Linked DNA regions of Homo sapiens. The protein of the gene in region 4 purifies or fractionates together with the protein of the main gene of each other region. This does not show direct contact. Each region holds a gene or a part of one and is shown on either strand. Other genes may lie near its edges.

The links.
Region 1: the proteins of LILRB4 (region 4) and C10orf88 purify together in Homo sapiens (affinity purification with mass spectrometry; 2 studies listed by BioGRID and IntAct, with this or other methods). This does not show direct contact.
Region 2: the proteins of LILRB4 (region 4) and RNF145 purify together in Homo sapiens (affinity purification with mass spectrometry; one large-scale study listed by BioGRID and IntAct). This does not show direct contact.
Region 3: the proteins of LILRB4 (region 4) and ITFG1 purify together in Homo sapiens (affinity purification with mass spectrometry; one large-scale study listed by BioGRID and IntAct). This does not show direct contact.
Region 5: the proteins of LILRB4 (region 4) and MAEA purify together in Homo sapiens (affinity purification with mass spectrometry; one large-scale study listed by BioGRID and IntAct). This does not show direct contact.
Region 6: the proteins of LILRB4 (region 4) and ATP2B2 purify together in Homo sapiens (affinity purification with mass spectrometry; 2 studies listed by BioGRID and IntAct, with this or other methods). This does not show direct contact.
Region 7: the proteins of LILRB4 (region 4) and RMND5A purify together in Homo sapiens (affinity purification with mass spectrometry; one large-scale study listed by BioGRID and IntAct). This does not show direct contact.

What each region holds. Positions count from the first base shown.
Region 1 is NC_000010.11:122,943,913-122,947,987, reverse strand, and holds part of C10orf88 (ATPase PAAT), read left to right. Parts: intron 1-4,075. UniProt on the Homo sapiens protein: ATPase that regulates mitochondrial ABC transporters ABCB7, ABCB8/MITOSUR and ABCB10. Regulates mitochondrial ferric concentration and heme biosynthesis and plays a role in the maintenance of mitochondrial homeostasis and cell survival.
Region 2 is NC_000005.10:159,202,638-159,206,712, reverse strand, and holds part of RNF145 (RING finger protein 145), read left to right. Parts: intron 1-3,056; coding exon of another isoform or gene 3,057-3,095; coding exon 3,096-3,279; intron 3,280-4,075. UniProt on the Homo sapiens protein: E3 ubiquitin ligase that catalyzes the direct transfer of ubiquitin from E2 ubiquitin-conjugating enzyme to a specific substrate.
Region 3 is NC_000016.10:47,453,989-47,458,063, reverse strand, and holds part of ITFG1 (T-cell immunomodulatory protein isoform 1 precursor), read left to right. Parts: intron 1-3,905; coding exon 3,906-4,051; intron 4,052-4,075. UniProt on the Homo sapiens protein: Modulator of T-cell function. Has a protective effect in graft versus host disease model.
Region 4 is NC_000019.10:54,665,806-54,669,614, forward strand, and holds the end of LILRB4 (leukocyte immunoglobulin-like receptor subfamily B member 4 isoform 1 precursor), read left to right. Parts: intron 1-9; coding exon 10-126; intron 127-434; coding exon 435-510; intron 511-593; coding exon 594-631; coding exon of another isoform or gene 632-639; exon of another isoform or gene 640-651; intron 652-888; coding exon of another isoform or gene 889-891; coding exon 892-944; intron 945-1,829; coding exon 1,830-1,988; intron 1,989-2,067; coding exon 2,068-2,214; 3' UTR 2,215-2,913; downstream 2,914-3,809. UniProt on the Homo sapiens protein: Inhibitory receptor involved in the down-regulation of the immune response and the development of immune tolerance. Receptor for FN1. Receptor for apolipoprotein APOE. Receptor for ALCAM/CD166.
Region 5 is NC_000004.12:1,320,644-1,324,718, reverse strand, and holds part of MAEA (E3 ubiquitin-protein transferase MAEA), read right to left. Parts: intron 2,339-4,075; coding exon 2,216-2,338; intron 1-2,215.
Region 6 is NC_000003.12:10,498,991-10,503,065, reverse strand, and holds part of ATP2B2 (plasma membrane calcium-transporting ATPase 2), read left to right. Parts: intron 1-4,075. UniProt on the Homo sapiens protein: ATP-driven Ca(2+) ion pump involved in the maintenance of basal intracellular Ca(2+) levels in specialized cells of cerebellar circuit and vestibular and cochlear systems.
Region 7 is NC_000002.12:86,768,216-86,772,290, forward strand, and holds part of RMND5A (E3 ubiquitin-protein transferase RMND5A), read left to right. Parts: intron 1-1,807; coding exon 1,808-1,910; intron 1,911-3,342; coding exon 3,343-3,497; intron 3,498-4,075.

The DNA.
Region 1 (4,075 bases), on a different chromosome or scaffold from region 4:
GAAAGTGAGACTACAAGGAGAAGATGAGCTGCACGTCATTCCCCTCGTCCAGATGAGAGTGAATGAGGTCTAAGATTGGACGTAGTAACATAATGCTGGATGCTAAATGATGCTAAAATGATGGAGCCATTGGGACTTGACAGCTAACTTAATATTGGTATTATGATAGAAAAATCAAGTTAAACATGAAATTGAGGCTTTGAAGATGGTGATACTAATAATATAAATGCAGCCCAAAGGAGGAGGATGCTTGGAGGAAAAAGGAATTTAATTTTGGGAACATTGACTTTTAGCTGTGAATAAGACATTCCCTGGAAGGATGTTGCAAACATCTGGAAACAGAGGATTAGGAGAAATGGAATGAACCTTCAGTGGCTGGAAGGGAAGTTTAGGGGTGTACCCACAGTAGCTGACGGAGGGTGGTGAAGGGAGAGGAAAAAGGAACCAGAAACATAGAAGGCAGCAGTGTGATAGAGTAGCAAGAGAAACGATTTGATGTCAGGTAAAGTGACTTCAAACTCTTGTCCTGCCTCTTCTTAGTTCTGCATCCTATGGCAAGTTAATTAATATTTTTTTCAATATGAATTCCTCATGTACAAAATCTAAATGATAACACTGTAAGGATCACAGAATTGATGTGAAAATTTAAAATAAGTAATGCAAGTAAAGAACTCCTTGTAGATGTTGTGTGGTTCACAAATATTAATGTAGTACCAGTATTATAATATGGGCTGAGTTAAGAGAACCAGGAGAGCTGAAGATTATGGAAACCACAGAAAGAAGAATTTCAAAAAAGATGGAAATGTATACTTTTCTTCCTCCCACACCATGTTCTCACCTGGATACCTCAGGAGATTCCTAACTGGCCCACCTGTCCTGCTACAATCTGTTTTCCACAATGTACCGAGAATGACCTCAAAGGATAATTGGATCTCATCCTTCTCCTGTGCAAAGCCCCCTGACTGCTTGCCTCCCTTTGTACTTAGAATTAATCCTGATTCCTTACCTTAATCTCTAAAATGTAGGCCCTGCTTGCCTTCTCAACCTCATCTCCTGCCATGTTTCCTTGGGCAGCTTGCTCCAGACATTCTGATATGTGTATTCCGTAAATATCTAGATATGTTCCCACCTCCAGACCTTTGCACTCATAACTGTTCTCTGTGGCCAGAACTCCCTCCCTGTGATACTTCTGTATCTGCATTTTTCTTATTCAGATCTCATTTTAATGTTACATCTTTAATGACACCTTTCTTAGCCAACCAGTGTAAAGTAGCATGTACCTCCAAATCCGTATCAGTTTCATCAGTGCCCTTTTGACCACTTTGTTGTTGTTTTTGTATTGGTTGCATGTTTATCTCACTAAAAGACAAGCTTCATGTAAACAAGACTTATCTGTCTTGTTTATGGCTCCAAGTATTATACACAGTCATGCATCAATTCACAGTGGGGATATGTTCTGAGAACAAAGGTGATTAGGGGATTTCATGGTTATGAAACCATCATGGTATGTACTTGCAGAATCCTAGATCATATAGCCTACTACGTACCTAGGTTACGAACCTGTATAGCATGTTACTTTACAGAATACTCTAGGCAGTTATAATGGTAAGGATTTGTGTATCTAAACATAGAAGAGGTACTGTAAAAATATAGTATACAAGATGAAAAATGGCACGCCTGTATAGGGCACTTACCATGAACTGAACTTGCAGGACTAGAAGTTACTCTAGGTAAGTCAGTAACTGAATATGAAGGCCTAGAACATTACTGTACACTACTGTAGACTTTATAAACACTGCACATTTAGGCTATGCTAAATTTCTTTAAACATTTTTTATTTTTCAATAATAAATTAAGCTTAGCTTATTGTAACTTTTTTTTTTTTATTTTTTGCGACAGAGTCTTCCTCTGTCATCTGGGCTGGAGTGCAGTGGTATGATCTCAGCTCACTGCAACCTCTGCCTCCTGGGTTCAAGCAATTCTCCTACCTCAGGCCCCTGAGTAGCTGGATTACAGGCGCATGCCACCACACCAGACTAATTTTTTTATTTTTAGTAGATACGGTGTTTCACCATGTTGGCCAGGCTGGTCTCGAACTCCAGGTTCTCAGGTGATCACCTGCCTTGGCCTCCCAAAGTACTGGGTGGGATTACAGGCGTGAACCACCATGCCCAGCCTATCGTAACTTTTTAACTTTATATACTTAAATTTTAAAAAACTTTTTGACTCTTTTGTAGTAAAGAGCTTAAAACACAAACTCATTGTATAGCTGTACAAATATATTTGGTTTCTTTATATCCTTTTTCTATTAAGCTTTTTTTGTATTTAATTTTTTTTTAAGTTTTAAACTTTTTTGCTTAAAACAAAGACACAAACATACACATTACCCTAGGCCTACAGAGGGTCAGGATCATAAGTATCACTGTCTCCCACCTCCATATCTTGTCCCACTGGAAGGTCTTCAGGGACAGTAATACCCATGGAGCTGTCATCTTGTATAATAATAATGCCTTCTTCTGGAAGACCTCCTGAAGGACCTGCCTGAGGTGGTTTTACAGTTAACTTTTAAAACATATAAGCAGAAGGAATATACTTTAAGACTAAAAATATGGTATAGTAAATACATAAACCAGCAACATAGTCATTGATTATTATTACTAAGTAGTATACAGTATACATAATTGTACATGCTATACTTTTATATGACTGGCAGTGTGCAATCGGTTGGTTTACACCAACATTGCCACAAACATGTGAGTAATGTGTTACTATGATACCACTTGGGGACTGGAATTTTTTAGCTCCATTGTAATCTTATGGGACCACTGTCATATGTGGGTCCATTGTGGACCAAAACATTGTAATGTGACACATACATATATCTATCTATACATACATATATATATACGTATATATACATGCATATATCTATATACATATATATATACACATATATACACGCATATATCTATATACATATATATATATACACATATATATACACACACACCTATTGGATTGATCAGCTATTTCTTGGAGATCCTCAGGGAGTAAGTTTGAATAGTGATGAGATGTAAACCAAATTGTGAGGGATTAGGTAGTAACTGGGTATTTGGGATGTGGAGTTACTAAGTGCACACAGGTTTTTTTTTTTCAAGTTTAGAGATAAAGAGGAAATTAGATACTTGTGTAAAGGAATATTGAAGATAAATAAGGAATTTGAAAAGCTTGTGAGATTTGAGCTTTATTAAGAATTTATTTAGGGCAGTGTATTTTTTCAAGTACACTCCATTGAACACCTGTGTCAGAATCCTTTGGAAGGTCTTCAAAATGCAGATTCCTGGCCCTCACTATCTACTCAATCCCAGAGGGTGGGGTCCAGGAATCAGTGTTTTAAACAGTCATGTCTAAGTGAGTTTTATGTACATTGTGATTTGATAATAACTCTTTTTTTTAATTATTATTATACTTTAAGTTTTAGGGTACATGTGCACAATGTGCAGGTTTGTTACATATGTATACATGTGCCATGCTGGTGCGCTGCACCCACTAACTCGTTATCTAGCATTAGGTATATCTCCCAATGCTATCCCTCCCCCCTCCCCCCACCCCACAACAGTCCCCAGAGTGTGATGTTCCCCTTCCTGTGTCCATGTGTTCTCATTGTTCAATTCCCACCTATGAGTGAGAATATGCGGTGTTTGGTTTTTTGTTCTTGTGAGAGTTTACTGAGAATGATGGTTTCCAATTTCATCCATGTCCCTACAAAGGACATGAACTCACCATTTTTTATGGCTGCATAGTATTCCATGGTGTATATGTGCCACATTTTCTTAATCCAGTCTATCATTGTTGGACATTTGGGTTGGTTCCAAGTCTTTGCTATTGTGAATAATGCCACAATAAATATATGTGTGCATGTGTCTTTAGAGCAGCATGATTTATAATCCTTTGGGTATATACCCAGTAATGGGATGGCTGGGTCAAATGGTATTTCTAGTTCTAGATCCCTGAGGAATCGCCACACTGACTTCCACAATGGTTGAACTAGTTTACAGTCCCACCAACAGTGTAA
Region 2 (4,075 bases), on a different chromosome or scaffold from region 4:
TTTGTTTTCAAGAGAATATTGAGCTCCCCTGTACTTTAGGATATGCTGATTAGCCCTGTTTGACAATAAATCTGGAACAGGATAAATTAGGCAACATTATAAAGGTATTCTCTAGATCAGGAGAGAAGGCTCCATTTTACTTCGTGTTTGTATGATATAGTGATTTGGCAGGTGTGAGTAATTGCAAGTACTTGCAAAGAAGATGAATATTTTAAAGTTTTGTTTTGATGTTGGTTTAGTGTGTGGTGCTAAAGTGTAGTGTAAAGTACCTATTTGTATTGATAACTATCATGTGCTCTTTTACTTTAGAAGGGTTCAAAGTGATAAGGTTTTGAAATTTTTTTCTCTTTGATTTTCCATGTATTAAATTTGTTTCGTCAGTGCCTTTATACATGACCAGCTTGCCACTGACTTGCTAAAATAACATTCACGTATAGAAATAAATGCAACATTTAGTTTCGTTTATTTGGGCGTATTTAATTCTATCCAAAGTCCTTGTTAAAAACATTTCAGTCTCGAGTTGACTATGTAGTAGAGGGGGATCTTGGATATTGTTTTTTATTGACAGCTTTCGGGACCCGGTATTTTCTCTTTATAGAAATAGAAATGTGTCCTGTTTTCTGTTTCTTATTATATTTGTTAGGCAGGAGTGGTGGGTGGAAATAAAGAGGGAACATGTACCATTCTGCTAATGGACTTTTGTAATAGAGATGATCCTCTGTACGGATTAGGGAGTTTTTCTTCCCTAGCAGATCTTGATTTCTAAAGCAGGATTAGTTATTTGTTTAGTTTAAATTTTCTTCTTTACCCGTTTAGGAGCCACAGTAAATGGTGAAAATGGGCACATTTTAAAATAGCAAAGCATTGAAAAAAGAGAAAGGTTCCAAATCAAATGAAATAAATATGGGCTACAAGTGTTAAATCAGTAATAGCTCCTCCCTCTCTTGTTACTTATAAAAACAGAGTAATGATTTATATTGGATTCCAGAATATAGAAAAATAGTTACTTTTCGATGGCAGTATAAAGACTGTCAGTAATACTGTCATCTCAGTACGTGGTGATTTTCAAATATGGTGGCTGGTGGTTTGTGAGAAGATCTATTCAATATTACTTTGAAATAAATTCCCAAGAGGGTATTGGGTTATCAGTTTGCTCACCAAAGTAAGTCTTTCCACTGTAATTCCTGAAGTTATCTAGATGGCTTATACACATTAAAATGCATTAAACTCTTTACCAACAATTTCTGTGAATGTTTTGGTGTATTTTTTCCTGGGATTAGAAAAAATAATAATATCATGGGCTTTGAGAAATTTAGATTCCTCAGTGGTTGGTTTGCAATAAATATTAAAGGTTAGAGATTTTATTTTTCAGTGCATTTTTCCTTCTTAGGACATGATATTTAGTTCTGATTTTCACAATAATATTTTTTCTTATGTAGGAAAATTATGAAAATGATCTTGTTCATGTGAAATAATCAGAATTGCAGTACTTATCTATAAAAATGTTAAATCTATATTATTGGCAGGCTATATATATAAAACATTTGGGTTATGGGAATGGTTGATATATGATTATTGAAAAGCTTTTATTGATAGTGTGCCAAGTTGGGTTGCCTTTAGCTTTTTGACTATCTGAACTAGGAAGCTATGAAAATTGGAGGGTAAGATGGAAATACTGACAAATATTTAACCATAGCATAGCAATCTGTCACTATAATTTTCTGCAGAAATAAATGTTTTCGTTTGTCCTGTAATGTCTGAAATTACTGCTAAAGCTGGAAATGTGTTTAGCTTTCTCAGCAAAATTCTTAAAAGGATATTGTCAGAGCCAACAATCCAGAATTATCTTTACTCTTTAAATTGTTCTTTACCCACTTTTGTTTGCTTTTTTTTTTTTTTTTTTTTTTTTGAGACGGAGTCTAGCTCAGTTGCCTAGGCTGGAGTGCAGTATTGTGATCTCTGCTCACTGCAACCTCTGCATCCCAGGTTCAAGCAATTCTTCTGCCCTAGCCTCCTGAGTAGCTGGGACTACAGGTGTGCACCACCATGCCCGGCTAATTTTTGTATTTTTAGTACAGACGGAGTTTCACCATATTGGCTAGGCTGGTCTCGAACTCGTGACCTCATGATCTGCCTGCTTCGGCTTCCCAAAGTGCTGGGATTACAGGCGTGTGCCACTGCGCCCGGCCTTGTTTGCCCTATTTTATATTTTTTTGGATTAATTTGAAGTTCTACCATATAAAGCAGTATGGCATTGAATTGTCCCTTTAAATAGTAAATTGTCCTGATAACTGCCTTTCATTTCCTCCTCCCCCTGCCCCCCCCCACTACTTATCATGGTCTGTGCAGAGACAGGGGCTGCAGACTCAATGCCTGGCGTCTTCCATGTGCCTGCTTATCTGTGTATCAAGGGAAGAATTTGATGAACACTTGAAGGCAGATTATGGGAATTTTAGACCATATTTAACTTTAAAGATTCAAGGAAATGATATTGTAAATAATGTTCCCTCTACCTGTATCTACATCATGAGTTCTCTGGATTGTAAATTTAGCACTTCAATTTTGATTGTAAGTGAATAAGGAAAAGCATAGAGTACAAGATGCTGCAAACTAAACGTGCAGTTATCAAGTTTTTATTGAATTGCTTAGGCTTTTTCATAGAGTAAATATTCAAAATTCACCCTCTTATGAGCTACATAAATCATAGTTTTATTGGAGTGAGTGAATTTTTCAAGTTAATTTTATACAAGTTACAGTAGTCTTACAGAGTGTTTTGTTCCTAGATTTGGAGTTAGTGGCCTTTTAAAAAATTAGTTTTGAGGCCAGAACATTTAATCAGAATTATAAGATTGGACAGAACTGAATGGGTCAATGTGAAAACACAATACAGAGGTTATTTTATGAATATCTAAAAATAGTAGTTGTGGCTGAGAAGTAGTATACGTTCTCACATAGTTTTGTACAGTGTGTGACAACCTATTAGATTCGTGAAAGGGTATCTAAAAGCGATTTGTGTTGACTTTTTATTTTTATATATTGTGTCTTCTGAATTTTAGGTCTTCTCCAAGAAAAAAAAAAAGAAAAAAAAAAACAACATGGCTGCAAAGGAGAAACTGGAGGCAGTGTTAAATGTGGCCCTGAGGGTGCCAAGCATCATGCTGTTGGATGTCCTGTACAGATGGGATGTCAGCTCCTTTTTCCAGCAGATCCAAAGAAGTAGCCTTAGTAATAACCCTCTTTTCCAGTATAAGTATTTGGCTCTTAATATGCATTATGTAGGTGAGTGTCTACATCACATTTTCTAATCTTCTAGTGAGCATTCTGATTTATGTCTTAGTATCTTTTTGAATTTGGGTAAAATGAAGTTCATTTTCATTAAGATGATAGTGATATAGTTATTGATGAGTGTTTATGAATCTTGATAGTTTTGTCTTATCATTGCACATGAATTATTAAGGCTACAAGAAAGTAAGCAGTATTGGATTTATTTTACTGGATAAAACTGGAAGGCAGAAGAAAACATTCTAGATTTTAATATGATGAAATATAAACAATGAGAAATACTTTTAGAGACATTTGGCCCCTTCTAATTTGTCCTTGTTTTGGGGTTTGGTAGTAATTCAGAAAGTAAGCTTTTTAAAATGCAACATTCTTTATTGTTCCCTGAGATAAACGAAAACATTAACATCAGCTGAAGATAAAGTGTTCAGTTAAATGAAATTTGGGAAATGATACTATAATACTTTGTTCCATAAAAAAAATCCTCCTGGAACTATAATTTTTTTTTTTTTTGCTTGAATCCCCTTTCAAGAAAAATGGAACTATCATTGATATGCTATGGGGTTAGTGGTAAAAATAATGATAAGAGATTGAAGAAATTAAAGTCAAGAAATACAAGCATGAAACAGATAAAATTTACCTAGAATAAAAATCATGATCCTTACTTTTTAGGTTTTGGTTTATTTGTAATGTATATAGCAATATATTTTATTAATGTTGTGATTGCAGAGTTCCAGACATGGTTTGAATGGTACTATAGTGGTTTTGCTAATATTTTATTATTAGAGTTGCCTGT
Region 3 (4,075 bases), on a different chromosome or scaffold from region 4:
AAGACTACTTAGGAAGCTGTATTTAAAAAGTCCCTGTGTGGGCTGATTAGTTCTCAGACTCTACAGTATTTTGAGTAAACTCAAACTCATGTTAAAAAGAAAAATGGCCTTGAACTAGAACTTTGAGGGGAAAGTTATAAATGGATAAACAGGAACTTATTTCCCTTGAGAAGTGTTTTTGGGTAGTGAATGTCAGCATGCTTGGAGTGGGGAAGAAACTGAAGTTGAGTGTATATGAGAAGTGAACTAACTGCATAGAGGTGATTTTTTTTTTATTAGAAATTAAGGAAATTTAAAAGATGTAAATGGCATGTGTTCTGATAAGTTAAAACAAATATCCCAATTAATTTTTTTATTAATGCAATGCACTTTCAAAATTTAGAAACTCTTGTTTGTGTTATAATTTAAAATATTTTTCAAAGTAAAAATAACTATTCTTCACCCTTATTCTCCCCCACACCCCTGTTTCTCTCTCAGATGCAACCACTTTTAAAACCTGTAGCTGATTCTTCTAGTGTTTATTACCATATTTTAAAATAAAATTTTACACTAATTTTCTTGAATTATCATTTTTAAATATTCAATTCTTGTTTTTTAACTAACATAATTTATCTACATTGTCCCAGTGTAATTAAATCATAATTTTTTGTTAAATTAGTAATCATTGTTTACCTTTTAACCATGTGGTGTCTATGTACTTCAGAACCAAGTAATGTACAGTATTTCTTTTCTTTTTCTTTTTTTTTTTTTCTTGAGACAGAGTCTCACTCTGTTGCCCAGGCTGGAGTGCCTTGGCATCATCTCAGCTCACTGCAACCTTTGCCTCCCGGGTTCAAGCTATTCTCCCACCTCAGTCTCCCAAGTAGCTGGGATTACAGGTGCCTGCCACCATGCCTAGCTAATTTTTTGTATTTTTAGTAGAGATGGGATTTCACCATGTTGGCCAGGCTGGTCTCGAGCTCCCGACCTCAGGTGATCCACCTGCCTCGGCCTCCCAAAGTGCTGGGACAGTATTTCATTTTTTGTGCAGCTTGCCCTACTGGAATAAATGATTGCTTTTTAAAAAATAGATTGCATAGTTTTCTATGTACATACCCTTAATTTCTTTGCAGATATTCCATCATATCTGCCATATACCTATCCTGCATTTTTGTTTTTCCCATTGGATCCTCTACATTCCTATCCAGTCTGGATTCATTCTCCAGGCCTTTTGTAGACTTACTATGTGGGGAATTTCCCCATGTAAAAAAAGAAATTTCCTCATTTACTTCACGGGGGTGTGTCTTTCCAGAAATTCCTGAGAAAGGATGCCTGATAAGTCCTGTCACATCCAAAAAGTTTTTCTACCCACTTTTTTTTTTTTTTTTTTTTAGAGACAGAGTCTCACTCTGTTTCCCAGGCTGGAGTGCAGTGGCACAAGCTCAGCTCACTGGAACCTCCACCTCCCTGGTTCTAGCAATTCTCCTGCCTCAGCCTCCTGAGTAGCTGGGACTACAGGTGCACAACGCCACGCCCAGCGAATTTTGTAGTATTTTAGTAGAGACAGGGTTTCACCGTGTTGCCCGGGCTGGTGTCAAAACTCCTGAGCTCAGGCAATCCACCTGCCTTGGCCTCCCAAAGTGCTAGGATTGTAGGCATGAGCCACCGCGCCCGGCATCTACCCACTCTTAAAAGTTTGGTTAGCTTATTGTGTTCTAGCTTCATGGGTTGCAGTTTTAAAATTCAACCCTCTTCTTTCTCCTAATCTTTTAAATGTAAATTGTTTTAATTTTGGAAGCTATTGGAGTCTCTTCTTTTTCTATTTTGTTCTGATTTCATGATGATGTGCCTTGGTATAGATTTGTTTTTCTTTTTTGATAAAGACAGGGTCTTTCTCTATCACCCAGGTGAAAAAGGAGTGCAGTCACACAGTCATAGCTCACTGTAGGCACCTAATCCTGGGCTCAAGCTGTCCTCCCACCTTCGCCTCCCAAAGTGCTGCAATTACAGGAATGATTATTCTTTACTTATTATGCTAGGCATTATGTGGGCCCTTTCAAGCTAGAGGCCTCTATCCTTGGGAGCTTTTTGAAATACTCTTACATTATTAAATATTTCTTTGAAAAATTTTTTTGTCTCTTTTAGGAGTTTCTATCAGTTGATTAGTCTGCCTGGGTTCATCCTTTATTCCTTTATCTTATCTGTTTCTTATTTTTATCATTTAGTTTTGTTTTATTTTCCTTTGCAGGAGGTTTTCTCAACTTTCTCTTTTAAATTCTAAGTCCTTTTTTTTTTTTTTTTTTTTTTGGTGGGGGATGGAGTCTTGCTCTGTTGCCCAGGCTAGATAGAGTGCAATGGTCCAATCTTGGCTCACTGCAATCTCCACCTCCTGGGTTCAAGCGATTCTCCTGCCTCAACCTCCCAAGTAGCTGGGATTAGAGATGCACGCCACCACGCCTGGCTACTTTTTGTATTTTTAATAGTGACAGGGTTTTGCAATGTTGGCCAGGCTGGTCTCAAATTCCTGACCTCAAGTGATCCACCCACCTCCACCTCCACCTCCCAAAGTGCTGGGATTACAGGCGTGAACCACCGCGCCCAGCCAGGTGTCACATTTTTAATTTCCGAGGTTTTTCTTTTGTTTTCTTACTGATGTTGTCTTTTAGCATACTGTTGTTGGTTTGTTTTTTTTTTTATAGACAGACTTTTTTCTCTTAAGTGTAATTTTGAAGTTTTCTTTTGTTGCATTAGTTCTGTTTTCTTCAGGTTCCTTATTGCTATTTGTTTTAGCTCTCTTTAATAGTCAAAGTTTTCTTCAGAAGGCAGGTGTCTACTCACATTTTCAAGTAAGGTGCAAAAGAAATAATTGGAAATGTATTGCCTAGTGGGACTAGTCTACTATCTTTTGCCCTGCATGTATGTTCTTGACAGACTAACATTCTAGAAATAGGGTAGAGCTGTGGGCAAGGGTTAAATTGTTCCTTTTGTAGACTTTTGGTTAACTCCTGTGTCTAGCTTAAGGCCAAAACCTTACCCATTACTGTAATTTAAATCCTTAATTCCTGAGACTTTCCAGAAATACACCACTTGGTTCTTACCTTGCTGAGTGAGAGGGAGAAAGAACTACCACTGATGCATTAAGAAAGTAATTATCTATAGTCTAATTGGAAATTTGCTGTCTTGCTATTTCATCTGAGTAGAATTAAGTATAAAATGAATTAAAGGCCTAATTTTTGCTTGGGTCGCTCAGATAATAAGACTGCAGGACGTTAAGCTTTCAAGATTCATATAAATAATTTTAGAATTATTTTGTTAATAAAAATATATCAATACCTATGAAAAGGAAAAAATAAAAATATACATATAAAGTTAGATATATATGTTTGGATGCTATATTGATTGCCAAGTTTCGTTAAAAAAAATTCCATTCTTAATTTACTAGCTTTCAGAAATAAAATGATTCTTTTAATTTTTACTGTAAATTTTGAATTTATGTTAAAATCCAAACTAAATATTTTATAAATAATATCTTTTAATTGAAAACATCCCAGTGATAATGCTTACTGCTTTGGCAATTATGAGCCTCCATTTGTTAGAAACACCATCCGAATGTCTTGGTGTCCTTGACAAAGGAACTATATAGAAGGGCTATACTAGCCATTGCTTGAACATAATAAACACGTTTTCTCTCGACATATTTCAGATTTGTCTTGTTTCTTGAGACTATTCTGCATTCATTCTGAACTCTTTTTTAGACCAAAGAGGTCTAAATACATGATGGATGAAAAGATAGGAAAGAGAAGGCAATCAGTCAGTTCTGTTAAGTTTTAAGTTTTTCATTGAAAATATTTTTGTGTGGTAGAAATACAGAATTGTCCTTTTCCATTACAACTTGTCTGATATTTGTAAATGCTTGTTTCTTTTAGGAATCACAGTGCATTGATAACAAGTGTAGTCCCTGGGGATTATGATGGAGATTCTCAAATGGATGTCCTTCTGACATATCTTCCCAAAAATTATGCCAAGAGTGAATTAGGAGCTGTTATCTTCTGGGGACAAAATCAAACATTAGGTGAATTTGTTTTAAAAATTTTTA
Region 4 (3,809 bases):
ACGCCCAAGGTCTGAGAAGGCACTGGGAGGTACTGATCGGGGTCTTGGTGGTCTCCATCCTGCTTCTCTCCCTCCTCCTCTTCCTCCTCCTCCAACACTGGCGTCAGGGAAAACACAGGACATTGGGTAAGTAGGAAATTGGGGGACCCGTGGGCTGATGGAGGGTGGGCTCAGGGCACCAGCCAAAGGGACTCCAGATAGGAGAGGTCATCTTAGAAACTCTGCTCCAGAAATTCCCAGTGAGAAAATCTAGAAAGAAGAAAATGAATGAGGGAGTAATGGAAGTGCTTTATTCTTTCGGTTTTTCTAAACTTAGAAAGTATTTAAAACATCCTTGCAAGTGTATTTTCAGGTTTCCTTTCCTCTTGACTTGCATGTGCAAGGCAGGTGGTTCTAACGTTCCCAGAGCTGAGACTCTGTCCATCTTCCCCCAGCCCAGAGACAGGCTGATTTCCAACGTCCTCCAGGGGCTGCCGAGCCAGAGCCCAAGGACGGGGGCCTACAGAGGAGGTAATTCTGCCCAAAGACCTCAGACTCCCACCCATCCCAACAGCCACCTCACTGTCCCCTTACACTCCCGTATCCTCCCCCAGGTCCAGCCCAGCTGCTGACGTCCAGGGAGAAAACTTCTGTGAGTGAGAGGCAGAGAAGGTGCACCTGGGGTGGAGCTGGGGGTCCCAAAATTTCAATAGCAATGGGGGCAGGAGCACAGGCTAGGATTGGTCAGGGACTCAGGGAGAAGTGGTCTGAACCCACATTGTGGGACCTCGGGGACATCACAGCCCCTCCCTGCGTTGCAGTGGCACTAATGGGAACAGGGCAGGGACCAGCAGGAATGAGAGGTCCCAGGGAACCTTCCCAGGAGATGAACCCCTTGCTCTACCCCAGCAGGTGCTGCCGTGAAGAACACACAGCCTGAGGACGGGGTGGAAATGGACACTCGGGTGAGAACCCGCCCCTGTCCCCGGCACCAAAGGCCTCCTGGTGCCAGATCTAATCCTGCAGGACTTCTCTGTCCTCCTTCCCCCGGCTCTCAGCATCGTCACGGTGGACCCCTCCTTGTCCAGCACGCTGCCTCCTGCCTGCTGGGACCTCACTCTCTCCTGCTGTCCTGGGACCTCATGGGCCTCCTCCCGGGTCCCCTTCCTGCTCCTCATCCTCTGTTTGGCCATCTGGTTGTTAGAGAGCTCCCCAGGCCTCAGGAGGATGACGAATAAATGAACCACTCCAGTCCCCTGGGCTCCCCTTCATTCATTCATCTAGTGAGTGTTCCCAGGGAGCTCACTGTGGATGGGGCTCCCCATGGGAGCTGCAGACACAGCAGGGAGCAAAGCCGCCCCCGCCTCCTGAGCTCACCTCGTGGTGGGAGACAAAATGCAAATAAATGCATCGTGTCCAGGAGTGCAACGTGCTGTAAGGAACATAAACCAGGTAAAGGGCAGAGAGTGTGGGGCAGTGGGGCCAGTCTGAATGGAAAGGGAGGGCTGTCTGCTCAGCTGTCATCTGAGAAGCCTGGACGGAGAGGGCCACGTGATCCTCTAATGGACGAGCCCCTGCAGGCAGAGGAAACAGCCGTGCAAAGGCCCCGAGGCAGCAGCGAGCTCTTGCAGGAAGGCCGCGTGAGGCTGCAGCCAAATGGGCAAGGTCAGAGTGAGGAGCAGAGACCAGAACCACAGGGAGGGAGCGGCCAGACCCTCCACGGCCTTAGGGCATCCCTGAGATTCCGTCAGGAAAGGGATGTAATCGGATCACCCTGGGAACAGTGGGGAAAATTGACTCCAGGGAGTCAGGAGGATTCAAGGACACCCCCCACCACTGTCTCTCTCCAGCAGAGCCCACACGATGAAGACCCCCAGGCAGTGACGTATGCCAAGGTGAAACACTCCAGACCTAGGAGAGAAATGGCCTCTCCTCCCTCCCCACTGTCTGGGGAATTCCTGGACACAAAGGACAGACAGGCAGAAGAGGACAGACAGATGGACACTGAGGTGAGTCCTTTCCTCTCCAGGCCCCCAGGCCTCCCCCACCCCCACCACGTTCCTTCCCTCTCACTCTCCCCCGCTGCAGGCTGCTGCATCTGAAGCCCCCCAGGATGTGACCTACGCCCGGCTGCACAGCTTTACCCTCAGACAGAAGGCAACTGAGCCTCCTCCATCCCAGGAAGGGGCCTCTCCAGCTGAGCCCAGTGTCTATGCCACTCTGGCCATCCACTAATCCAGGGGGGACCCAGACCCCACAAGCCATGGAGACTCAGGACCCCAGAAGGCATGGAAGCTGCCTCCAGTAGACATCACTGAACCCCAGCCAGCCCAGACCCCTGACACAGACCACTAGAAGATTCCGGGAACGTTGGGAGTCACCTGATTCTGCAAAGATAAATAATATCCCTGCATTATCAAAATAAAGTAGCAGACCTCTCAATTCACAATGAGTTAACTGATAAAACAAAACAGAAGTCAGACAATGTTTTAAATTGAATGATCATGTAAATATTACACATCAAACCAATGACATGGGAAAATGGGAGCTTCTAATGAGGACAAACAAAAAATAGAGAAAAATTAATAAAGTCAAAATGTTTATTCTTGAAAACATTAATGATACATGAATCTTGGCCACAATGAGAAAAATAAAAATGAAAAAAGAGCAGGCATCCATTTCCATACAGGAACAAAATAGGAGGCAGCACTACAGACCCTACACACAGCTTTACAGAGGTGAAAGAAAACTGTCAGCAATTCTATGCTGACATAACAGAAAATGTAGATGAGATAGATGAAATACGAAAAATTACAGTTTACTTAATGAACATAAGGATAAATAGAAAAACTGAATCATCATACATAAACATATATAAAATGCATTGATCCTGTAATCAAAAATGTTCCCACAAAGTAAATGCCACTTCAGCAAGGTTTGTTGGTGGTTTTTTCAAACTCTTATGCACTCATGAAACACACAGACACACACACACACAAACTTGCATAAATTTTCCCTGAGAATATTTTGTATATATTTACACAAATACATTTGATCAGACTAGGAACAAGTTGATACCAAAACCTGAAAAGGAAACTACAGAATGGGAAAGTCATAGAAGATCTCTCACAGAAATATAAATCCCTTAACAAATATTAACAAGTAAGATTCATGTCTCTATAAAATAGACAGTATATCATGACCACACTGGTTTTTTGTTATCCTTTGATTTTGTTTATGAAAAGCAAGGATAGCTTAATTTTCAAAAACTCAATCAATGTAATTCAGTATTTTAACAAAAGGAATGAAAAATTATCATCTCAATAGACAAAGCTTTTGTCTGAGCACCTTTTCATATAGCTGCTGACCATTTGTATGTCTTCTTTTGAGAAATGCCTGTTCAGCTACTTTGCCCATGTTTCAAGTAGTTTTTGGTTTCTTGCTGTTGCTTTGTTTTAGTTCCTTACATATTTTTGCATATTAACCCTTTATCAGGTATACAGCTTGCAACTATTTTCTCCCATTTCTGAGTTGTCTCTTCATTCTGTTTGCAGAAGCTGTTTAGAAGCCACACCTTTTGTCTATTTTTGCTTTTGTTGCTTGTGTTTTCAGGGCCATATCCAAAAAAACCTTGCCCGGACCAACGTCTTGAAGCTTTTCTCCCACCCATTTTTGTATATGGGATAAGGGTTCAATTTCATTCTTCTTCATATGAATATCCCCAGGATGTGTCCTATGCCCAGCTGCACAGCTTACCCTCAAACAGAAAATAATGAAGCCTTCTTCCTCCCAGGAAAGGGGACGTTCAGCTGAGCCGAGTGTGTATACTG
Region 5 (4,075 bases), on a different chromosome or scaffold from region 4:
TCATCCACCAGGCATCCAATCTCAACTTCATCCAACACCAGACACACTCATCCACCAGGCATCCAATCTCAACTCATCCAACACCAGGCACGCTCATCCAATCTCAACTCATCCAACACCAGGCACACTCATCCAACCTCAACTCATCCAACACCAGGCACGCTCATCCAATCTCAACTCATCCAACACCAGGCACGCTCATCCACCAAGCATCCAATCTCAACTTTATCCAACACCAGGCACGGTCATCCACCAGGCATCCAATCTCAACTTCATCCAACACCAATCTCAACTTCATCCAACACCAGACACACTCATCCACCAGGCATCCAACCTCAACTTCATCCAACACCAGACACACTCGTCCACCAGGCATCCAATCTCAACTTCATCCAAACCAATCTCAACTTCATCCAACACCAGACACACTCATCCACCAGGCATCCAATCTCAACTCATCCAACACCAGACACGCTCATCCACCAGGCATCCAATCTCAACTCATCCAACGCCAGGCACACTCATTGACCAGGCATCCAATCTCAACTTCATCCAACACCAGACATACTCATCCACCAGGCATCCAATCTCAACTTCATCCAATACCAGGCACACTCATCCACCAGGCATCCAATCTCAACTCCATCCAACACCAGACACACTGATCCACCAGGCATCCAATCTCAACTTCATCCAACACCAAGCACGCTCATCCAATCTCAACTCATCCAACACAAGGCATGCTCACCCAATCTCAACTTATCCAACACCAGGCACGCTCATCCACCAGGCATCCAATCTCAACTTCATCCAACACCAGGCACACTCGTCCCCCAGGCATGCATTCAGGGCCCCGAGTCCTGGCCCTGCCTGTCCCCACAGCAGCTTCAGACAGGTCGTGTGCTCGTGGCAAGCCTCCAACACCCTCCAGCAACACTGTCCGGCAGGTAATTAGGGCTTGCAGGAATATCCTGGCAGCACCAAGAACCTATCTTCCCTCTGACATCCACAGGAAACAGCCCTGGCAGAGTTCCCACTGTGAGGTGTGTGCCGGCTCTCTGGGAGGGAGTGTGGGGCTGGCACTGTGTAGTGGGGCCGCAGGTTACATACCAATTCTGGCTTTCCTTTTAGGGTTTCCATACCAAGGTCCAAACTCTCTTTAGGGGAGCTACTAGCCGCTCTACTTTTTCGTCCCGTCTTTGCTTCGTGCTTGTTTTGGCGGCCCTGAGTGGCAGTGTGTCACTCCTGGCTGGTAACTGCGTGCACCCTGCCAAACTCAGCCAGGGTGAGGTTAAAGCAGCGCTCAGTTTAGAAGACAGAAAAGTTTTGCTAATGGAGGCAGAAGTGTTAACATAAGTTAAAACATTTCTGCAAGCCCCTAGGGTGACAATGCCTTTTAATAAGCAGGTTTAAATTTTGTCCTTTAGGAGTCCATTTCTTAAGCTTCTTTTGGTCTCTACAAAAGTCGGTACTCGGCCGGGCACGGTGGCTCACGCCTGTAATCCCAGCACTTTGGGAGGTTGAGGCAGGTGGATCACAAGGTCAGGAGATCAAGACCATCCTGGCCAACGTGGTGAAATCCCATGTCTACTAAAAATACAAAAATTAGCCGGGCATGGTGGCGCATGCCTATAATCCCAGCTACTCAGGAGGCCAAGGCAAGAGAATCGCTTGAACACCGGAGGCAAGTGAGCCAAGATCGTGCCACTGCACTCCACCCTGGCGACAAAGCGAGACTCCGTCTCAAAAAAAAAAAAAAAAAAAAAAAAAAAAAAGTGGGTATTCATTAACAATATCACAGCCCAGAGCTCTGCAGCCTCGCAGATGGAGAATGACTTCCCAACCAGCTTTTCTGTGTCTATGACTGAGCACAGGGAGCCCATGGAGTACCCCCATGGAGCAGGACTGACCTGTCTCCAGGCTCTAAGCCCAGCAGCCCCAACACTCTGTGTGCACATGGTCAGCCTCCTGTAACCCACTCCTTCTGAGCCTCATGCCAGCTGTACACAAACTGTAATGCCAAATGAGGTGCACTTTTCCAGATTTTAGCCTAAAAGTGTAACACAGCCACCAAAAAAACTCCCAAACCCAACCCCCACCTTACAAACCAAAACCAAACTACTGTGAACCACCAGGCAAGGGGGTGCTGGCTCCAGGGCAGGTGGCGCAGCCTCGGCCCCGACCCACTCCCACCCCAACCTGGGAGTCCGTGCACCTTCATCTTCCGGAGCCGGGACTTGTTGTCATGGCACCAGGCCAGGCAGGTGGCCGTCTCACGCCTCTCCAGGGACTCCTCCACCTCTTTGGCCGTCAGGAACATCTCAATATTCACTAGGTCCTTAGAGGAAGGAAGCAGCACCTGATCAGAATGTGCTGGCTCAAGGCCCCCATGCCACCCTCCCACACCCCAGCCTCCATGAGGCAGGCCCAGCACCGGCCACCACTCGAGATGCATCTCCAGTCCACACTGTGGGTCTGCACTCGTGGACTACTCAGGGCCGCTCTGAGATCCTAGGAACAGAACAGCCCCCAAGGACCAAAAGGTCGGACGCTCACGTAGACAGCAGCCATAGCCGGGCAAGGGAGCCAGGCTGGCCCCACCTGTCCATGGAGAGGAGCTGCTGAGACACACATGCAGGCAGGGCCAGGCCACATGCCAGGCGGCCCTGTCTCCACTCCCCACAGCCCCCCAGCACATCTACAGGCCCTCCCTGGGCAGCCCCCTCATTTCAAAATCAACAGTAAGCAAATAATAACATGCTAAATAATACATAAACACATTATGGCTAATATCGCGGTAGTTACAACCAATGATTTATATGAAAGCAAAGAAAAAAAAAAAAAACAACAAAAAAAACAGAGTAACCCAGGCTTAGCATCAAGTCTCCGCTAGTGGCCGGGCACAGGGGGTGGGTGCTCAGTGCCTAGCAGTGGAACCCATGGTCTCTGGCAGGGGCAGGACAGCAGCTGGTACGGGACTCCACCAGGCACGGCAAGGCTTGGGGCAAGCGCTCAGGTGGTCCTCAGCAGCAATGACTCCCGACCTTCCCCAGTGGGACCAAGGACGGCACCTCCGCCTGCACATAGCCCAGGACCCAACGGCCCAGGATGAGGCCACAGTTCACCACTTGGGTCCCACAGCCCCACGTCTGGACCACCGGCCTCACAGATGCGCTGTTTTCTTTGATGATTACTCTTTTCTGAAACCCCTCATAACGTTGTTTTCTTGCACCTTTTCTTTCATGATTTCTTGTTTCTGAAACCCCTTCATAGCATTTTCTTGCATGTTTGCTTTGATGATTTCTCTTTTCTGAAACCCCTCACAGTGTTGTTTCCTTGCATCTTTTCTTTAACGGTTTCTCGTTTCTGAAACCCCTTCATAGCGTTTTCTTGCATGTTTGCTTTGATGATATCTTTTTTAAAGCCCCTTCATAGCGTTTTCTTGCACGTTTGCTTTGATGATTTCTTTTCTGAAGCCCCTTCATAGCGTTTTCTTGCACATTTGCTTTGATGATTTCTTTTCTGAAGCCCCTTCATAGCGTTTTCTTGCATGTTGATTATTCTTTTCTGAAGCCCCTTCAAAGCATTTTCTTGCATGTGTGCTTTTGTTTGTTTTTTTGAGACGGAGTCTCGCTCTGCCGCCCAGGCTGGAGTGCAGTGGCGCAATCTCCACTCACTGCAAGCTCCGCCTCCTGGGTTCACACCATTCTCCTGCCTTGGCCTCCCGGGTAGCTGGGACTACAGGCGCCTGCCACCACGCCCGGCTAAATTTTTGTATTTTTAGTAGAGACAGGGTTTCACCGTGTTAGCCAGGATGGTCTCGATCTCCTGAACTCGTGATCTGCCCACCTTGGCCTCCCAGAGTGCTGGGATTACAGGCGTGAGCCACCGTGCCCGGCCTCTTGCATGTTTGCTTTGATGATTTCTTTTCTGAAGCCCCTTCATAGCGTTTTCTTGCATGTTCGCTTTGATGATTTCTTTTCTGAAGCCCCTTCATAGCGTCTTCTTGCATGTTCATGTTGATGATTTCTTTTCTGAAACCCCTTCATAGTGTCTTCTTGCACGTTTGCTTTGA
Region 6 (4,075 bases), on a different chromosome or scaffold from region 4:
AGTAAATAATAGTAATCCAGCTAGCATTCACCCAGCTAACTGCTTTGCACGTATCATCTCAGTGAGGACGCCCATAGCCCTGTTATCCCCACGTCCCAGATGAGGACGCTGTATCTAGAGAGGTGAAGCTGTGTCACCCAAGGTCACACAGCTGGCATGTGGCAGAGGGGAGGTAGAAGGCAGGCCACCAGGTGCCCAACTACCCTCTTTGACCCTTCGGCATGAGGCCAGTTCAAATTGGGGTACCAAAATTTTGGGAACCTATAGCTCAAGAACTTAGAATTTTGTGGCAAGATTCCGAGAAAGAGTGAAGAGGATCTCCTATGGGTGAAGGCGGAGGAGCCTTCCCCAGGCGGGCGTGGCCCTGACCTAGGCAGCCGGACCGCTGTGTCGTCCCTTTACCCTATGGAGTTGCTGATGCCTAGAAAGCCAAAGCAGACAGATGCCTTCTGAGGCCACCTAGCTGGGACCGTTTATAAAAAGGAAACTGTGGCCCAGCCAGGCACAGGGACTTGTCCAAGGTCACACCGTGTTCTGTAGAGACCTGGGCTTCTTGCAAGTGCTCTCAGGCCCCAGACAAGAAGCAGCAGAGGCCTGTGTTGGCCCCTGGTTTTCCCCAGGTGTTTGACTGTGGGTGGAAAGTATGAGAGCCCTGGGCCCAGCCCTGCTCCTGACCAGCTGTGTGATCTTGGCCAAGTCACTTCCTCTCTCTGCCCTCAATCTTCTCATCTGTGGCCAGGCAGGCCTATCTCTGCCCTGTTTTATGCCACAGCTGCCAGAGAGCCCTGGACACTGTAGAGGGCTGTGCACGAAGGTGTGATTGGCATCAGGATCAGGAGCCGGAGCAGGTGAGCACCTTGCTGCTGCAACTGGCCAACTCTGAGATCAGAAAGGGAAAAAAGGAAAGAAATCTCTAGTTTGCAGATCGGAGGTCAGAAAAGCTGCCTGTGGCTTATGCTATGTGCAGAGCCTGAAACACTGGCCCATCCGCCTGCTGTCCCACTGCCCTCCTCTGCCTTCCCCCTGCCCAGCCACAGGTATGGGTCAGGAAACCCATTAATGCATTAATTAACCTAAAGATCACCTGATGGGGGCAGATTTCTGGGCCCTACCTTGATGAATCAGGAGGTCCCAGGGGCTACATTTCCACAGGTACCCCTGGGTTTTCACCCATTTCACTCCGCACCCTGGGGAGCTGAGGTGCTTAAGAGTGGGCTTGGTGGAGCACATAGGCGCTCAGAGCTGGGGGTGGCCTAGACACCATGCTGTTCTGCCTGTACCTGTCACACGTGGGGAAACTGAGGTCTCCAGCCTAGTGGGTGACTGAATGAGACTGAAACTCATTTCCTCTCCCCACCAGTCCCCTACCAACCCCTAGCCCCTGGCTTCACCCTGCACAGCTAAATCAGGCCCTCCTGAGGACCGATGAACCCTCAAATCCAAAACAAGGCCATCTTCTCAGCAGACAGCTGGGAGCCATGCTCCAAGGGCACTCTCCAAGACCCCATCTCTACAAAAAATTTAAAAATTAGCAGGGTGTGGTGGCATACTCCTGTCGTCCCAGCTATGCAGGAGGCTGAGGTGGGAGGATCGCTTGAGTCCGGGAGGTCAAGGCTGCAGTGAGCCGTGATTGTGCCACTGCACTCCAGCCTGGATGACAGAGCGAGACCCTGTCTCAAAAAAAAAAAAAAACCGTTTAAAAAATGGGTTATGCTATGGAAAACTCCTGGGACCTCCTGCTGGGCAGTGTGGCTTCGGCTTCACCCCGGTCTTCACTTGACAGTCTGGATGGAGGCGGCGGGAGGCAGGGGGAAGCGGGAGTGACGGTAAAAGCCTTAGAAGTGTCATTCACAGTCTAGGAAATCTCTGCAGGGTCAGAGAGTTCCAGATATGTGGCCAGAGACCACGGCTGGCAGGACCAGGAGGGCAAGTGACCAGGCCCGAGCAGGGGCCACAGCTCAGGTTCCTAAAGAAACAGAGGTCCCTGGGTATGGGGGAGAGTGTGTTGGTCTGAGGGTCAGGAGAGCTGGGTCCCAGGCCGGCTCATCACTGGCGAGTGACCTTGGAAAAGCTGTGTAAGCCCTCTGGTCCCAAGCTCTCCCCTTGTGAGAGGGGTCAGTGATCCTGCCCCCCAGTGTCCTTGGTGAGGGCAGCTTCTCCTGCCCACTGCCCCTTGGGGTGAAGGGTCAGAAACACTGCAAGTCTCAGGAAGTAGCAAGGAGAGCAACTGCAGGGACAGCCCGTTGTGTTTGTTTTCTGTGGCTGCCATAACAAATGACCACAGGCTAGGTGGCTTCAAACAACAGACGTGTATTGTCTCCCACTTCTGGAAGCCAGAAGTCTAGAGTCAGGAGCCAGCAGGGTTGGCTTTTCCTGGAGAGGCTGAGGAAGAGCCTGTCCCTTGTCTCCCTAGCTACGGGCAGTGGCCAGCAACCCTTGCTCTTCCTCACCTTGTGGCTGCGTCACACCCATCTCTGCTTTCATCTTCACCTCACTCCTTCCTGTGTGTCTCTCGGTGTCCTCTCCTCTGCTTCTAAAGACATTGGTCATTGGATTTAGGGCCCAACCTAGACCCAAGATGATTTCATCTCAAAATCCTTAGCTAATTCCATCTGCAAAGATCCTATTTCCAAACAAGGTCACATTCTGAGGTTCCAGGTGGGCATGAACTTTGGATAGGACACCGTTCAACCCACTGCAGTCACTAAGATTTATGAGGTGTTTATTGCTCATAAGACCTGCACACAGTCTTATCTCTTCTTCACCATCACCCATTTTCCGGATTACAGAAACCAGGGCCCAGAGACATTAAGAATGTGCCCAAGTCAGGCCAGGCGCAGTGGCTCATACCTGTAATCCAAGCACTTTGGGACGCCAAGACAGGTGGATCACCTGAGGTCAGGAGTTCGAGACCAGCCTGGCCAACATGGCAAAACCCCGTTTCTACTAAAAATACAAAAAAAGTTAGCCGGGCCTGGTGGTGCATGCCTGTAATCCAGCTACTCAGGAGGCTGAGACAGGAGAATCATTTGATCCTGGGAGGTGGAGGTTGCAGTGAGCCAAGATGGAACCATTGCACTCTAGCCTGGGTGACAGAGTGAGACTCTATCTCAAAAAAAAAAAAAAAAAAAAAAGAATGTGCCCAAGTCACACAGCAAGTGAGGGGCAGAGCTGGGATTTGAACCCAGGTCCCTGGTGCTCCTTCACCTTTCCACCTTTTTGTAGCTGGCTGGGGGATGCCCAGAGACCCCTTAGGGCCCACAGCTAGGAATCCATGGGGCAGGAATTCCAGCCAGCCCTATGAAGACCCCAGGTCTGCAGGGGCTCCTGGGCACCAGAGAGAGGCTGGAGACAGGCAGGGGAGCTTCAAGGTGTGAAGGGGCCCAGCCGTGGTCCCAGGAGACCAACATGTGGCAGAGGATTGAGAGCCACAGTTCCTTGTCTCTGCCACTGACTCTGTGAACGTCATTGTGCTCTTCCGGAGAATAGGGGCAGCAGCACTGACTTTATGGGGTAATTGCCAAGTACCGAAATGTTCATCATAATAGTACTAATCGCTAAAATGTGTCCGCAAGCACTTTACAAATGCTTTTTGTTTTCCCATGTAATGCGTGGGAGGGGAATTGCTTATTCAGTCATGTGCGTTCGGTTGTGTGTGGTTGAACCAGTGACTTCGCCTCAGTTTGCTCCTCCGTAAACCAAGGGTTAGCTGAGCACCCATCTTCCCGGTTGTCACGTGAGGCAAACAGGATCCAAGTACAGGGCTTGGCCCGGGTGTGGTCCAGGTAGAGGCTCAGCGGATGTTTTCTTGCCTGTAAGATGGGATAGTGGTAGTATTATGATGATGCTATTATTTGTTGTATGAGGATTTGGTGAAGTAATGCAAAGGAAGCACTTGGCTCAGGGCCTCGCCAGAAATTGATGGAAAGTGGCCTCCTTTGTGGCATCAGAAAGATTTGAGTATAAATCCTAATGCCAGTGTTTACTACTGTGTGACCTTGGGCAGGTAGCTTTGCTTCTCTGAGCTTGACATCCTGATATGCAAAGTGGAGTGGGAAAAACCTGCCTCACAAGA
Region 7 (4,075 bases), on a different chromosome or scaffold from region 4:
GGTCCTGAAACCAAAACATTTTAAGAAACTGTTGTAAGAAAATAACTCTTTTTTAGCTCTTCTATTCATTTAATTCCACAAATGTTTTGCATACCTGCTATGTGCCAGGCACTGTGGGCACTGTGTTGGATATGAAGATGAATAAGGTGCATTCCACAGGGTGCTCCATCCTAGCGTAGGAGTGGACAGATGCAATTAGCTATAATGTGAGGCGCTGATGCCATCAAGTTCTCTGAGGAAGACTCTAAAGTGGGAATGTACATGCAGAAAGTTTACTGACATCAGCACCTGTGGGAGAATGAAAACAGCAGGATTGGGCAGAGAGGAAAGTTGGACTGTATTAGAGTGGCAACAAGGTGTCTCCCATCCGTGAGGAGCTCTGGAGCTGCTGTGGGCCCGTGGAGTTGTCCCAAATTGGGCCTATAGGGCTGGGGTTTTGTACCCTCACATGGAGCAATTGCTGGATGTGACTCTGGTCAGATGACTCTCTTCAACTGAGGACAGTCCTGAAGAGACGGACACAGCTGAGAGTTGGCTGCCAACACTTCCAGATCTGAGAAATGAGTGCTTCCACCCTGGACAGGGGTGATCTGGGGATAAGAGGAACTATGCAAAAAAAATGTTTCAGGAGCAAGCATGTCATTTGACTGATAAGCTGAGCCCATTAAATCCAGTTGTTTTGTGCAATATAAAACCTTTTTTGGCACTAATGTAAGATTATTATGAAATTCTTTATATTTTACTTTTTGAAACAGGGTCTCATTCTGTTGCCCAGGTTGGAGTGCAGTGGCACGATCGTGGCTCACTGCAGCCTCAACCTCCTGGCATCCTCCCACCTCAGCCTGCTCAGTAGCTGGGACTCTAGGCACATGCTACCATACCTGGCTAATGGCTAATTTTTATATCTTTTGTAGAGACGGGGGTCTCACTGTGTTTCCCAGGCTGGTCTCAAACTCTCAAACTTAGGTAATCCTCCCACCTTGGCCTCCCAAAGTGCTGCAATTACAGGAGTGAGCCACCACCATCTGCTGTTATTAAATTCTCTAAAAACCTTATTCTCAATTCTGTACTTCTTTCCTGTGGATTGAAAATGGTGTGTAAATCAGCACCATCTGCAGACCACATTTTGAGTATCATTGTTCTAATTAGCGTATACCTTGGAGCACATTTTGTAAGAAAAATAAGTCTGGTGGTATATGGTCTGTAAGGAAGGGAATAGGAAAGGAAGTTATGTCTTGTATATTGCTGAGTGAAGAATTTTGTGCAAGAACATCTCTTTTTCCTTCAAACTCAGATGCTAAAACTACTGTATTTGGAAGAGTGTAGTAGTTCTTAATTCCTGCTCTTCATTTGAATTAATTGGTTCTCCAAAGCTGCTTTCTTTTTTAAAATGCATGTTTTAAAACTTTATTTTTCTATTTTCTGAGGAAGTAAGCTAAAGTTAAATTACCCTAGCAGATGAGTTTTTTTTTTTTAACGTTTGCGTTCTTTAACTGCATTTACCCCCATATTGGTGAGGTTTATTTAGAAAATTTAGAGTTTTATTTTTTGTTTTGTTTTTTAACTGGGATTGGTTTTCAGTAACTTCAGGAAATATACCAGTGGGCCTGGGGAAGAAGGGGAGGGAAAACAAGTTATTTCTCTTCTAGTGGAAATGGCTGGATTTACTTTTAGCAGAACAGAAAGCTCTCACCCTGTCCAGTGGCCAGGGTCTGCAGCACATAGAGTCTGGAGAAATTGATGTCTCCTTGGACCAAGCGGCCTGACCCCTGGCCTGGCACTGACGTTTCCTCTTCTGCTCTCCCAGTTTCTCAGCAGGTTGTGTGGCGCTGCCAGCTTTAATTAACATCAAAGCCGTGATTGAACAGAGGCAGTGTACTGGAGTTTGGAACCAGAAAGATGAATTACCTGTGAGTTCCATTTTCTATTGGCTATTTACTTTTACTGCCATTAGAAGAATATGGCATCTTTAAATGTTCATCTTACCTTTTAACCAGGAAACATTGTAGCCATTTGACAGGAGTTCTTTTATGGATATATAAAAGATTAAACAATACAAATGAAGAGCCTAGTACATTTTGGGGACCCTGGAGGAGGAGTATTATAATTTTGACTTGAAGTGCCTTTGAAAGCTGGTGAAGGGAAACATCAGAAGTGGGGAGGGCTGTACATACAGTAGCAGGCAGTGTGTTCTGCAGTGCAGTTCACAGACCACTCCTGTGATTGTTTTTCTAATATAAACGCAAATTTAATTGGTTTTACTTTTGTCTTAACTATTGCTGTCGATAAGATCACGAGTTTGTGCTGGTTACATTTGCCAATAGAATAAGTATAGAGCTCTTAAAGGTCGTAACACCTGCAGTCATCAGTGGGTCTCTAGTACTGTATTTCTACTGCTCTCATGGAAAGGACCATGGTTTTAAACATCAGCACGATCACTTGCCAACTCTAGAACTTCTCTAAGCAGTAGTGTATTCATCTCTAAGACAAGCACCAGCTTTCTCTTTATGGGGCTGCTGAAGGCTAGAGATAACATAAGCATGCTTAGAATAAGACGGGATACATGGTAGGCACTCAAATTGTGGCTGCCATGGTGCAGTTATGATGTGAAGTGGCGAAGGTCATTGTATGTATGTTTCCACCAGGTCTCTGACAGGCACTGAGGCTCTGGCCTGGAATTGTCGTTCCTGTCATGATTGTGTCACAGACCCTGAAAAGCTAACATACGCATTTGTTTTTTTGCCCGTTTTATACCACACCTGTACACGGGTTTATTTGCAGTTACCTTGTTCTTCCAGCAGGTAACCCTGTCAGTTGGTTGCCCCAGCTTCTCCTCAAAGATCTTTTCTGATTAAAGGCACAGGTGCAGTCCTGGTCCTGAGTGTGGTCAGGACACAAGTAGCACTCCTGCTCTACTGCCGCTAACTTGAACAAGTGAAAAGAACTTGAGCCTTCACTTGTTTTGTGGAGGCAGGTGCCTGGCATCTGGCAGTTTCCCATTTATGTTGTAAGCATCTCTGACATGCACTAAGAGCAGACTGAAATCTGAATTCACCTAAAGACTGTGTGTCAAGCCAGTAAAGCCATTAGAGGTGGTGATCAGGTCATTGTTTGTCAGACTTGTTTTTACACTTTGTCAGCTTTCTTGAAAATAATCTTGAAGGCTAATTTAACACTTTGAATCACTAAGACTGTCCATCTGAGTTAGAAGAGTGCTATAGAAAGTTACATTCAGGTGAATAGATCTGATCAATGTTCTTTGCTGCACAGTGTATATTACCATGTGGATGGTTTTGTGAAATATGACTTCAGCTTTTTTACTTTTTTTTTTTTTTTTAACAGATTGAAGTGGACCTTGGTAAAAAGTGCTGGTATCACTCTATATTTGCCTGCCCCATTCTTCGTCAGCAAACAACAGATAACAATCCACCCATGAAATTGGTCTGTGGTCATATTATATCAAGAGATGCCCTGAATAAAATGTTTAATGGTAGCAAGTAAGTGTCTGACTTTTAAAAAATGTTAGCAAATAAATTTTGTTTTGGAACTTGGTAGGAGGATAAGAAGTGATGAGGATTAAAAAAATGTAGCTAGATTTAGAACTAAATAAATTTCTTAACTATTCATTTGGCAAAGTTGGTGGTATCTGATTTGAGTATTTTTAATGTGTCTATGGATTTGGTGATTAGATTTATAAGCATGTCTTTAACTTAACTTTTGGGGTAGGTGATAGATTTTCCCCTTTTTTATACAAATGGTCGCATACTAAAAAATGTTCTGTACTTTGCTGTTTTCACTTAGTGATGTATTTTGGAGATCTTTTTCTGTGCTGCAGAAACAGCCCTCATTATTTTTTTGTTAAAGCTGCAGTATATTCTACTGTATAGAAATATGATTGGGTAGCCAGTTCCCTATTGATGAACATTTGTTTCTCTAAACAGTGCTAAGTGAAGGCCAGGTGTGGTGGCTTATGCCTGTAATCCCAGCACTGTGGGAGGCCGAGGCAGGCGGATCACGAGGTCAGGAGATTGAGACCATCCTGGCTAACACGGTGAAATCCCATCTCTACTAAAAA